Linked DNA regions of Homo sapiens. The protein of the gene in region 1 binds, or shares a complex with, the protein of each later gene. Each region holds a gene or a part of one and is shown on either strand. Other genes may lie near its edges.

The links. The genes of interacting proteins can lie anywhere in the genome.
Region 2: ELAVL4 (region 1) and IGF2BP1 share a complex: the UniProt entries of both Homo sapiens proteins name them as parts of the TAU mRNP complex.

The regions. Positions count from the first base shown.
Region 1 is NC_000001.11:50,111,899-50,119,036, reverse strand, and holds part of ELAVL4 (ELAV-like protein 4), read right to left. Parts: intron 1-7,138. UniProt on the Homo sapiens protein: RNA-binding protein that is involved in the post-transcriptional regulation of mRNAs. Plays a role in the regulation of mRNA stability, alternative splicing and translation.
Region 2 is NC_000017.11:49,000,385-49,007,384, reverse strand, and holds part of IGF2BP1 (insulin-like growth factor 2 mRNA-binding protein 1), read right to left. Parts: exon of another isoform or gene 2,579-7,000; intron 1-2,578. UniProt on the Homo sapiens protein: RNA-binding factor that recruits target transcripts to cytoplasmic protein-RNA complexes (mRNPs). This transcript 'caging' into mRNPs allows mRNA transport and transient storage.

The sequences.
Region 1 (7,138 bases):
TTCTTTCTTTCTTTCCTTTCTTTTCTTTCTTTCTCTCTGTCTCTCTCTCTCTCTCCCTCCCTCCCTCCCTCCCTCTCTCTCTCTCTCTCTCTTTCTTTTTTTAGCATAGGACCTGCAAAATGGCATTTGGGATATCAGATCAACTAATAACCCCTTCCCCTACTTTAAGGATTACATTGAAGAAAAAAATCGACTTCCCTTTATATCCTTCCTGTAAGCATATGAAGTAGAATTCAAAATCGGTGTTTCAAGATTGTGTTTTCAATTTGAATCTTGAATCCCTTCAGGACAATTTGTATTATTTCTTCATAACGGCAACAGGTCACAGCAACAGGTCCCCATTTAGAACAATTTGTGAATTAATTTATGGTGCCTATTTATTTATTTCCCCCTTCAGACCCTTGGGGAAAAGGTACAAAATTAGGTTTAACCTAACACCAGTCCTGACGCGACCCATTACCCCTTCCCAAGTGTGTGTAATCAACAACTACGCCAAGGCTTTTGTGGTTGTTTTCCTCTTTTCTCTCTCTCTCTTTTTTTTTCCTTCAAATGGGAGGGTAATGAATTGAGGGTCAGCATTCTGCTGACATCCTGCACATCTCTTCAGTCAATCTGATCACTTCTAGAGGTGTTCACACTGCCAAAGCCATCCATCATGCTGCCTTGCCAAGCAGAAGGAAAACTGATGGCAAGTTACAAAAATCTCATTAAGCCACTTTTTGCCTCAACCTCTTCACCATTCCGTGAGAAACAGAACTTCAAAGTTCAGCCTATTGGGAAAACAAGGGGAAAGGAGGAAAACAGCTGATACAGTGAAAAGGAAAAAAAATAGATCTGAAGTAAGTTGGTTTCTGGGAAAAAGTCAAATAATTTGCAAGTTACAATATACAGACAGCAAAGATGGGACCATATCAATTAAGCTCAGCCTATTTTTATTTTCTTTCTGGCTGACTTTTAACTTTCCTAACAGGCTCTTTCATGAAATTAAAAAAACAGCACTGGTTAAAATTAATTTTATCTTCATCGTTTTTCTCTTTTGACAACTAAATCCCAAGTGAATTCTAATTCCAAAGGAGATCATGGATACAGCTTGTGAAATCCTAGGAGGATGCAGAAAACTTAATAAAGCCATACAATTCCGAGGAAGAACTGAGGGCTTGTCTATATAGAAAAAAACAACAACACTGTGTGCCACCCTTCTTGCATGCTGGGGACAGTATGGAGACAGTGAGGGTAGCATACAATGTCACTGCCCAGGACATCTGGCATGGGCAGATGGGCCTCTTTCTGGGGAAGGGCTTTTGCCAAGGGACAGAAAGACTGACAGACTGAAAGAGACTTAACACCCTCAAAGCACCTTCAATTTTCAAGTCCTATGTATGACTGGTGCCTTCAAATACTGTTTCTCATCTGATTCTTGCAGAAACCCTGTGAGTTAGATATTGTCATCACCATTTAAAGATGAGGAATTGTGGCTCATGTTGAAGTAACTCATCTGTGATTGCCCAGTTAGTAACTGGAAGAGCTAGGATTCCAACTTAAGTTCAACTGACTCTGAAGTCCTTTGCACTTGCCAGTTTCTTAAGACAAAGAACAATCTTTTTAGAGGCTTGCCTGTACAGGCACACCGTGATGTTCCTCGGAGGCCAGAGGCAGACTCACGGTTCTCTGGTCTCTGAGATAGCCTTGCCAACAAAGGCATGGTAATAGCGGTATCTAGTAGAAATAAATCTAATTTTTCTACGTGTGTACAGGTCAATATAATATGTTTTTAGCCCCATCTGAACACAGGCCCTCTGGGTCCTAATCACAATAAGCAGGTTGCTTTTAAGATTAACTTTTCCACTAGAGAGGTGATTAAAATATAATCAAGCTAGAAAGTTATCCTCCCCCAAAGTCACCTAAAACAGAGAAACTCCAAAATAAAACCAATTTACATATTTTAGCCCAAATTAAAAAGTAAAAGCTAACGATTCCCTTTTAATATCCTGAATAATAAGTGCACATTTATGTAAAGCTTCCTTTGGGGAATGGTTACTATGAGGACAACTTTCCCAATATTATTCATAAATATCACTTTTGTTTTGGTGTTACAGTAAGAATCTGGACTTGTGGGAACTGTACTATCTGTACCCAGTGCATCAACAGAGATAATTAATGTTGAAGACATGTATAATACCAAGAATTTTGGATGTGTGGTTGGCTGCATTACAAAAAGTAAAATAAGAAAAGATAAGTCAAATCTGGTAAAAATCACAAATTTCAGGGACTTGGTCATTTACTCCCTTTTAAGTGAGCATTTTCCTAAGGAAAGCTTCATTAGTAAAGATGGCAAGTTCTCAGCCTTTCTACTACAGACTTTTAAGTAGCACTTAGAACTAAAGTTTATCATTAGAGCAGTATTTACTACTGCTGCATCTTCAAAGGGGGCACTTGAAAAAAAAAGTTCAACTCAGCCTGTTATTTTTCATGTACAAATTAGAAAGCAAACCTTTAAAGGGTTTAGACTGGCAGCTTAGGAAAACACAGAGTACTTTAGAAGCCATTATTGGCACATCCCACGGCACACCGGGGCTCCCAGCTGTCTACAACACATGACACACACACACACACACACACACACGCACACACACACACACACCACAGTATTTAGATGTATATGACAAAGTAACTATGATTTCTGCTCCACTAGCAAACTTCCAATTTGGCATGCCAAAACGGTCACTATCTGTTCAGATGCTCCTGGGAGGTAACAGAGGAAAAGGAATTCAAAAAGCCACTTACATCAGAAGCAAGGAGGCAAGACATTCGTGTTTCTGTAAAATTAACCAGTTTCAGCCAAGCTTCATGGGCTGCTGACTGAAAGACAAGTTCCTTTCAACAGTCCAAACTTCTATATTTCTTCCTGAGGCTGAAGATGTGGACACATGAAACCTTATAGACTAAAATGTCCAAAAGATCTCTTATTTCTATCTTTTGGAGTCACACCTAGATGCTTATAAATACAGAAGGAAAGACATTTATGTACTTGAATGTTCCAGCAGACCTTTTCTTACTATTTGACACAAACCTCATTGTGCAATGTGCCACCTTAAAAATCCCTCACCCTAACTTCATCTCCAATCACAGGGACTTATCCTCTAATTAATTATGTCTTCTGATCATTGTCAAAAGAAAAAGAAATGGTGACCTTGGATTCCACGTTCCAAAGAAATGCACATAGTAAGTCCTCAACAAATACATCTTCACCCAACAAGGAATGACAGTCAGTCTCTATTATGAACACTGTTGGCAAAACAACTTTAAGGGCTAAAGGATAACTCATAGAAGCAGGAGAAGATTCAATGCTACGAAGTGCAAACAGAGGAAACCTCCATGCTGTGTTTTTTTCAGAATTCACCATCTTCGCTGGGTCATTTCTCTGCTTCCCCATAGCCTGAAAAAAGAACTAAACTTCCTATGGAAAAAATATTTATGAACTATATTTTATAGTTTAAAATGAGTAATTCAAAAATTAAGCTAAAGTTTACATGTTATTTTTCAAATGAAGAGTCCAAGGGAGGTTATTTTCAGGAGAGACCTAAGACATATATATTTTTTTCATTAAAAAAATCCCATATGCTAGTTTTGCATTTTACTTTTGGGGTTAAAAATAAGACTTTCCAAAAACAACAAAAAACAAAAACGCAAGCACAAAAATTACACTGACCTTATTTCCTCAACACTTCTACTGCTTTCTCAACCAAAATTTATTTAAGGATTCCTTTAGGGCTCTCAGCATTTCTTGATCCTTGTAGAGGGGGATCTTTATTGAGGGGAGAAATACCTTTGGTATTAGATACAACAAGGATCTGAATATGAGCTCCCCTAAAGCAAAATTGGTTGGTCTTAAAATGTTCTGAGCAAAGACAGTCTCAAGGGTGGGGTGGAGAGAAAGAGACAGCTGGAGCTAGAGTGAGAGACAGAGAGAGAGAGAGAGACAGAGAGACGGAGACAGAGACAGAGAAAGAGAGAGAAAGTCACCAGCCTATTAAGAGCCCTGACACTGCGTAAGTTATTTCTTAATTAATGTGCAAGGGAAAGCATAAATATTACCATTAAGCAGAGTGGATGTGAACATCCAAAGCAAGCTAGCTGGCTGATTGCTGTCTTATTTTTTTGTTCTTTTTTAACAATTCCATTTCCAAACTGCTCAATTCCTAACACTGATGCTCCAAAGCTACTGTGAATACACTGCCTGAATACTTAATGAAGTAAACAACAAACAAAATGGCTTATCTGTGGTGCCCCCAGCTAGCATCCCAAACTGGATATAATTAAAGGTGTGAACAAGCAAGCAAGGAAGTAATGGACCTGCAAAGTCAAGGTTCAGAGAAATTATCGGGCATCTTGCACTGCACCAGTTCAAATTTATCACTCATTATCTCCTATACCGGAAAGATGCAGACCCACATGTTGGTACTCTTCTACACTCTTGTCTTCCAGCCTTTTTTTCCTTTTCACTGCTAAATAGCTAATTTAAGACAATTACTGCTTGTGACTCCCACCCACCCACAGATCACCTTTTCTTTTTTTTTTACCCTTAGAAAGCCAGTGACCTATAAAAGCCCTTTACCCCTAAAATACGTGGAGATTTCACAAATATAAGGATGTTCCTAATACACACACACTTGCACACCAACTTACAAAGCAAAGCACAGATGTTAACACTTCCATCTTACCGCCTCCTTATTTTTACCAATGGTAAAGACTAGGTTCAAATGCCCTCAAAGAAAAACATCCTGCCCACCGCCCCCCATACATATACACATATCCATATACACTCACATACACACATTTTAATTCATACCCAGGCCCTTGATTGAAGGGATGGCTTTTAGCTCACAAACATTGTTATGCATTTGCACACTTATAATTTCTTAAGTGGCAGCTAAAGAAAGGTGTTTGGTTACTAACAGACTGCAGGGTCTGAATATATATTTTTTAATGAATATTTGAAATTTCATATTTTTCTAATATGAGAACTCTTGGAGTCATGAAGAGAAACCAGTTCTTATGGGAAGCAGCCCAGTTTGGTTTTCTCTCCATTTATAGATGCACATATACTTGCAAGTAAGTGTGTATACATGTTTAGTAATACCAAATAAGGAAAGCCTAAGACAGGTGCAGGAATCTGCAACACACTTATACTGATACACACAGAGTCTCTCTGCTTCTCTTTCTCGCACACACACACTTTCCACATATACATTACATGGATGGGGGAATGGATAGTGGTAAATAAAAGGTTGACTTTACTTTCAAAAGGAGAATTGACCAAATCTGTACAACATGGCCCATCGACTGGACAATAGTAAGATAAAAGCTTGAAAATGTTCATGTCCCTTCCTAGCCCCAAAATTCCCAATGACATTGGGAAAAAAATACTGCATTGCAGCATTTGCCAGCGCATACTCGTGTGTTTAGCATCCTCTGGCCAGCTCACCAACAAATGTACATATTAAATGTCTAGGCATATAAATTAACTGCCTGGTGGCCACAGATCATTGGAGCTAATGAAGAAATTTGTCAAGGCCAAAGTACTTTCGTCTATGTATGATGACCTCTATGAAGACAACCATTTCTTACTTGAGGTACATACAGACAATTTGTTTCTTTTTTTAAAAAAATTAAAATAAGGTGTTAAGATGCTCAGGGCTAAATGAAGCAGCATATCTCCTCATGGAAGAAATAGTATTTGGCCTACATATAGGAAAAGAACCCACCTATAATAAGGAAATAAGTGTAAAGGGAAGAAATCAAACCAAAAAAAAAAAGACTTACTCTGAGGAAATCCCATTGTTGTTCACAGTAACTCTAACTTGAGAAAAACATCTCAATTCATCCACAAGTCCTTTTAGAGATATTGAACACACACATACAAAGCACCATTCAAACAATAATTTCTAGATGTGAAATTTCAAATAGCTTATACCTAATAGAAATCCTAAGTTTAAAATATCTGAAGTCCAAAGTGTCCCAAATCCAATTTCAAGACTAAGTTTAGAACTAAAAGGCAAATGCGCAGTTCATTTTCTTTCTCTCTCTCTCTTTCTAAATATTCTATTGTTATTATCTCACAACAATCTGGCCTTCCTCTCATAACAACACCCTAATTTTCAAAGGACCAAGGAAGGAGTATTGGGAGAGAAAAAGTTTTAAGGTTTTGTGCAAACCATCAAACAGAAGCAAGGCCATCTACATCTGGCCAGGAGAATGACTTGAATGAATGGCAGGTAAAAATGAATGGGACTGAGATCACAAATGAATGGTTAAGTTGTTTGTTAGCTTTTTAAAAAATGAGATATTAAATTGTCTTGTAAATCAACAATTCTCAAAGTAATTTTTCAGCTACTTCCTCATCTATGTTAATTTTACCCTTTCAAAAATTTAAATATTAAATGATTTAGCTGTTATGTTACTATGAGATATATGGACATTCTGATCATTAAAACTGCTACTTAGTCAGATGTTTTTTGCAGAAATATTTCCAATTGGATTTTCACTTCTTAATAAATGCACATTCAGCCTTGTGCTTCCATAAGAGCACAACTCCACATGAAGGTAGTAGGCATTAATATTTTTAAGACAAAGGATCGAGAAAGGTCAGCATCAGAACCACGTGTCTTTTTTACAACCCAAGCCAAGATGACACTTCTTACAGAAATTATTTTCCCCTAACTAAAAATTGCCAGAAAATTCTCAGAAAATAAAAAAAGAAACTATATTGGAGACTTAAAAAAATTCTATTTTTTTAAAGGTGACACAGGCTTATGCACTCAACATATGGCCGCAAGTTTCAAGTGTATGACAAAAAATACAAGTTTATTTATTTTTACCTCAAGAGTGAAAATAAAATTTTTAAATCCCCTAATAAGAAGAGAAAACAAAAAGACGCATCTGCAAGGAAAAAAGAATTGGGGGGATTTGCAATGAAGAGAGCAAAAATTAAGTGTACTTTCAATAAAGCCAATTATATTTCCTAATCTTTTAGTGTATTTCAGCATTTTTAAATCTCTCATTTTTGGGCTTACAATTAGCTCCCTGATCATGCATCTATTTTGTCCTTTAGTAAAAAACCCTAACAGATCACCATTTC
Region 2 (7,000 bases), on another chromosome or scaffold:
AGAAGTGGGCATAAAGGTGGGTTCTGAGTGCATCTCTGGGAACTGGTTCCAGACCAGGGAACCAGGGGGAGAATGTGAGGACACTACAGAAGCAGAAGAAGTAGGGAACAATGTGTGCAGTCACCCCCTGGGTATCTAGGGATCCCCAGTTCCTGAATGCCTACTTTGTTAGCTTACCAAGAGCAGGACATGAAAATGAACATACCCATCCCAGCAGATGGGGGAGGTCACTCTCATTTCTTCCTTCCTCAGACCCCCAGGAGGATTCTTACAGTCCCCTTCATCCTGAATTCTTACAACACCTACCTTATATGCAGAGTTAGTTCCCCTCTCACCAATGTCCCTACTCTACATGTACACCTTTGACAGTAGCCGTAAAGTGTGAAATTTCAGCTAGGAACCTGGACCAAGTTCAGGGCATAAACGATAACAGAATAAATGGCCTGTTTCCCCTAAAGAACAATTAATAGCATTATCCACCATGCTCGCCTCATCTCTCCAAGCCTCTGTCTCAGAGAATGTACTGGGGGAATCTATAATCTAGGGGCTCTGTGGGGTTGCCCTGGTGAGCTTCATCTCTCTCCACTAAAAGGTGGCTTTTCCTTTCAACATACAGGTAGAGTTACCAAAGCACCCTACGCACAGATCCCCTTCAACATGCCTAGCCATCACTGTTCCTAGTGCCTTAGATATATAGCCCAAGCTGACACACACACAGTTCAAAGACAACCTCTCATGGACACATTTTCAGGCATCTGTACACTTGATCAGTTCTAATACTCATGGAGCTAACCACAGCTATATGGGGCAGGGTAGGATACAACTGTAAAGCTTCAAAGGAGGACAAACAATGGCTAGGGCAGGAGGGACAGAAGTCAATATCTACAACAAAATAATAACAATAAGAGCTATTGTGTACTACTATTAGGACCACTTCTTTACAGTTACGGAAATTGAGCTCAAGCTTTTAAACACTGAATTCTCCTGGGAGGAAGACCTTTCCTCCAGACCCCAGTAAAGGATGAGTGAGAGACCTAGGGTAGGTCATTAAGACTCTGACCTAACAGCACTTCTTCCCTCCTGGAGCCTTAAGAATTTTGAATGATTCCTTTCCTCCTTGTTCCTCTTTGCCAAAGAGGTCAGACCACACAAACAACCATTACACACATATTTCTGAATTCTCTGATTTCTCCCCTTAAAGATCCTAACTATATCCAATCAACTAAACTAAACTATCCAATCAAATTTCACTCAGACTTAACATTTTCCATTTCAAGTGGCCAAAACATCCAAATGAGTGATTGAGTTGGTTTTTGTTTTTGTTTGAGACACAGTCTCGCTGTTACCCAAGCTGGAGTGCAGTGGTGCGATCTCGGCTCACTGCAACCTCCACCTCTCAGATTTAAGCAATTCTCTGGCCTCAGCCTCCCGAGTAGCTGGGACTACAGGCATGCACCACCACACCTGGCTAATTTTTGTATTTTTAGTACAGGCAGGGTTTCACCATGTCGGCCAAGCTGGTCTTGAACTCCTGGCCTCATGTAATCTGCCCTATTCGGCCTCCAGAAGTGCTAGGATTGCAGATGTGAGCCACCGTGCCTGTCCTGAATGAGTGATTGAGTTTTTAACCAAAATTAACTCAAAATGAAAAAAAAAAAATTTGAAGTTCTCCTTAACCTTCTTTTCATAAGGAAATGTAGAGAGGATTGACTAGAATCCACTAACCAGACATGGTAGAAAGGGAAAGAGAAAATGTAGAGCTTCCCCTCTTCTCCTGCCTCCTCTATTATGGGATTTTTCTCCACAACCCTCCTCTAAACTATAAGCAAAATTTCCAGCCATCCCATATCAGACACCATCCCTTACATGCCTTCCAGCCACCAAAATGCCACTTGTCTAATAACCAGACTTGTCCTAAGGGGTCTTGAAAATATCTGCACAATCCACTCAAAACTTCTCTTAATCATCGAGCTGTTTGCTCTCTATTTCAGTCAAAAGCAGTTTGCTTACGACCAGCCATGCTCCTGGGAACCTGGATTTCCCAAAATGCAAAAGGACTGCATTTCTGATGGTGTTTGTTCTGCACACAGTTACATTTCAGTGTGTTGCAATCAGGTTTTTTCCAACTGTATTAAAAGTATGAGGTCCAAACCTACTTTTCTGTGACTTACCTGTAATCAACATATATTTTGTCAGTCAACTATGGTTAGAGCAAAAGTTTGTTCCAGCCTGTTGTATTATTGCAAACCTACTGTGCTGCAAGGTAGTAAGCAGGTCTTACAAAGCAGGCTCTGCAATAAATTTTAATAGTAGGATGACCCCCCTTCTATCCAGTAATAAGTACATAGTCTCCTCTGATCAAAATCTGAAGGGCCATCCAAGTTCTCCTAGTAGAATGAAGTCACTACCTGGGGACTACGTAGCTTCCTGCTGGCATTGCCTCCTTGCCCTTGCGATGGTGTGTGTCAGGTGGTATCTTACAGGATCATTTTTAACCAAACTATCGGTAACCAAATGGGCATACACTTTCTTGAGTACAGGTTTGAGAGACCTTTCCTTCTGCTTTTTGTTTTGACAGGCATTTAAAAAGGTATAGGGGAGGAGAGGAAAGGTGGAAATGGATGGGGTGCAGAAGTTTTACACTAACATGGAGTCGAAGACTGGCTGAGACCCTGGACAACTGGAAGGCCTGTTGTCTCTCTTTTACAAGATAAACAAAATCCATGGATAGAACCTCTGACTACTATTACTGCCTCTGTTATTGTTTCGGTCAGCCTTCAGGACCTGTGGACAGACACAAACAGCTCATTTTGTAAAGATTGCAGGTTACTTAAATTGACACTTAACTCTTTAAGGTTCTATTTCTCAGGCCAAGACCCCAGCTACTGGGAGAGAGGAACAGCTACTTGCACTTCCATTTTCTCTCCAACTGTCTCATCCTATTTTCCCTTTACCTACTCTTCCTCTCTTCTTGCCTCTTTTCACTTCACATTTACCCACTGGCTTTTTGCCTTAGAATGGAGAGCTCCTGAGGCAGCCCAGGTGCTGGAAAGGGTCTGCAGCCCGCAGCCCGCAGCCGGTGAGGGGGAACCCTCTCGTGGGGTATCTGCTGCGAGGTTTGCGATCTGGGGTTCCCAGGACTAAGGCGCACCACAAGCGGCCTGGGATCTCCTGGGGTCTCAGGGATCTGAGAGGGGAAGTCCTCCTCGGAGACCCAGGCCAGCGGATGTTCTCTGTCAGGGGCTTGTTAAGAGAAGGCAGGCGGGCGGCCCCACCTCAGAGCGAGACGAGATTGCCGGGCTGGGACTGGCGCGGGGGCGGGCGGGGAAGGTTAGGGCCGCCGGGCCGGGGCGAGCGCTCCAGGAAGAGCCTGCAGCGCCGCCGCCACTTTCTCTCTCTCTACTCTCTCTCTTTTTTGAAAGGGGAAGGGAAGGCCGGCAACTCCAAAAGCAAATATAGCCTTGCCCTGAGCTGAGTCTACCACCCGTCTCCGACCCCTCTCCCGTGGGTAACACTGTGAGACTCCAGCCGCTCCCCTTTAAAAGGGAAGCGGGAAATCCACCCAACCCCGTATCTCCCCTCCCTCCCTCTCTCCCTCCCCCCTCCCCGTCTGGAATTTCCAAGCCGGGACTAACTCGTCTGATTTCTCCAGTCTCCCCCTGCTGCTTTTTTCCTCCCCTTTTCTCTCCCTAACACTCCCATCCCAAATTCTAAGCTGCACTTTCTGGAAAACATTAGCCACATTTCAAGAATCTTTTAAGAGGATAGGGAACGAACCACACTTATTTTAAATTCTAACAGCTGGGAAAATGTCCGTTCTTCAAATGCCTTTGGTTCATAAACTTATTCTAACAACCCCATCACCACCACTACCACCCCACACACAAAAATCAACAGATCTAACCACTAAATAACTCTTCACAAAACCTTTAAACTTCAACAAATAGCACTTGCTGTTCCCCACTTCTCACTCAACTAAACCAGATCTGAATTTTAAAATGTTTTAAAATTGTATACTCAGTAGACTACCTCAATAGTATCTTTGTCAACTGGCTGCTACACATTAAAGTATAGTATAAATACACTCTTAAAAAGTAAGCCTTAAAAGTACCCACACACATAGATTAAAATGATACATATTAAGGTAATTTTAAAAGATTAGAAGCTCAGAACCTTTGAATCAAGGTTCTTCCAATTGCTAATGTCATGTATTTAATCTCTGAAACATAATTATGTTTTTTTCCACCAAAAGCTGTGCCATTAAAACTTTACCTTTTCAACAATTAACAATACTTTGAATAAATTAGTGATGGGACTTGCAGTTCTTCCCCCTTTTTACTAAAAAGTTCTCCATCTGAGAAACCATTATGGTAAAATTTCATCTTTTTAATTTGGGTCAGAAAATAAGGGGTTCTAGAAACCTACAATTCTTCTAAGGGACAGTCAGTTGCCACTGCCCTTACAAAACTCTCATCTTGAAATACTGACCACCCAAATGAGAACAGTTAAGGATTTCTACCAGCAGTGAAGGAAACTAATTTATGAATTTGCAAAGTTTAATTTTTAGGTGGAAATTAAAATAGGGAAAGAATGTACCCCAGTTTCCACCTTTCCTCCAAACAGTGCACAAAAACTTAACATTCAACCATTTTTTTCACTTATGTAAAGCAAAAAAAAAAAAAAAATTCTAACCTAATATTAATAAGAAAACCTTTTTAAAAGAGTAATCAATTGTTTCTACTTTAAACTTCCATGTTGAATAGTAGTCACATGTTATCTTTTACCTCGTATGAGTTAAAAACTTTCTTTTTGACTTGGATACTAATTCATAATTACAACCATTAAAGTAAAAGTGCCTGAAAACCCTCCCGCTCTAGTAGTTTTCATTCCCTTTTTAACCCCTCTTCATTCATTTTCAGCCCCAAAGTACAAGGTAGGTTTTCTTTTTTCCTTAAGTGCAAATCCATTTCTGAAGACAATTTTTAGGTTGTTTTGAAAACATTTAGTGATCCAAGTGATTTCTTCAGAGCCTCAACAAATCATTGTTAAAATATATTTAAAATATTTTTTGCCATTTATAAGACATCCCTTCACAGATTTTTAAAGCTGTTAACTTCAAAAAATTAAACTGTAAAATTTGGACACTTTCTTTTGGGAGTTCTCAATTTTATGAACGATTTATAAAACTAATTTTGTTTAATAGGTACTTAAGGGAGTTAGCCCACCTCATTTTTAGTCAACATAGAGGAAAAGGACCATTAATCTGCCTAAAGAAATCACCAAACTTAGAATTCTTTAATGTGAACACATTTCACCTTTAAAAAAAATGAGTCAGTGCATCTCTTTCATTTTTTTCTTAATTAACAGTAACACCTTTTATTTTGATGACACCAGTTGACAGTGAATATGCTATCTTTAGGTCACATTCCTCTAGAAAAAGGCACACCACAGTGGCAAGTGTAACAAAGGTTTAATTCCCTTAAAAAGCAAATCATGTCTCAAAGTAATCAAGTCACACTAAAATGGTACCCCCTTTACCTCAACTACTCCTAAGTCTCTCAGAATAAAACATATACAAGCCCTTTCCACAACTGTTTTTAAATGCATTTGGTTTTTCTCTTTTGTCTCAGTATCTGGCAGTGAACATATACAAATTCTCAACAAAAAAGCACAAATTGTTAACCAAATTCCAACACTAAGGGGGTTTGAGATGGTGATCTCTAAGAAATTAGTATCACCTCATTTTAAAAATTCAAGCTAACTGCTGTTTTCAGTTGAAATGCATAGTGTTCGGCCTCTTGAGTTCTTAAAAAGGTACAAATTATATGTATCAAATAAATTCAAACTAAGAACAAAATACATTAAGAGGTATTGCTACAGCATATCTTTTGTTTGATTTCCCCCTCTTAAAAAACAAAACAAAACAACCAGGAACATTTAGTTGTTGGGTTTTTATGAATTATTTTAGAAATTGAAATCATAGTTCATTTGGAACTGAATGCCTCAAGAAGAGTTCATAAGGAAAATACAAGAGTATATATACACAAAATATTATTTGTATAGTTGTTCATTTTGCTTAGAATATATTAGTCATAATTAACTAGTTCCTGTTCTATACATCCATGAGATGGAAAGTCAGTAACAAACCTAACTGACGAAATACTTTTCAGACACAGACTAAAGACACATACCACAACATACTTCCTCAAAGACACAAAATGATAGAGCAAACTGACTTAATGAAAACAAACTTTCTTTTTTAAATCTTGAGACTTCAAAAATTGATTCATTCTAGAAAAATGAAGTGCCTTCTCACCACCAACCAAAATAAAAAGCAAAGAAAACACAACTGACTCAATGTTTGGGCTAAAAAAATTATTTCAGGAAGGGGAGAACACATAAAAGATCTAATTTAATATGGGTGTGGACAGATTTTTTTTTTTTACCCAGTCTTCTCACAAACCCCCTCTCCATTCCAACTCAAAAAAGAGCCCTCAGTAATGCATTTTGGAGGGAAAAAGGGCCTAGAAATGACTTAAAAGCAAGCAGATGGCTTGGGGAAAAAGATTCATAAATACAGGGCACCATGAAAATTAAAATATAAATGTTTTGAGTTCCATTTCATCACGTTTTGCTATTTCTCTTGCTTTTCACTTTATTCCCTAAAATTTAAACCATCCTCAAGAGCAAAAGAAAAAATCCACATATTTTAGAATTCCACTTATTCTGGATATTTTTCATCAACACTCAGCTTTCAGTTCAAATATCCATATCCTTTTCAATAAACCTGCTGGTGTCAGTGTATGTTCCTTAGACACATCTCCAGAAAATGTTTCAAAATAACAAATAAGACTTCTTTTCTTCCTTCCCATTTTATTGCCTCTTTACTCCTAACTCTAATTGCCTTTCCAATAACACGGTATTTCAAACATGTGAAGTTAAATCGCAAGCTCTATAAACATAGTAACAAGCCATATTGATCTATAGACACAATAGTTCC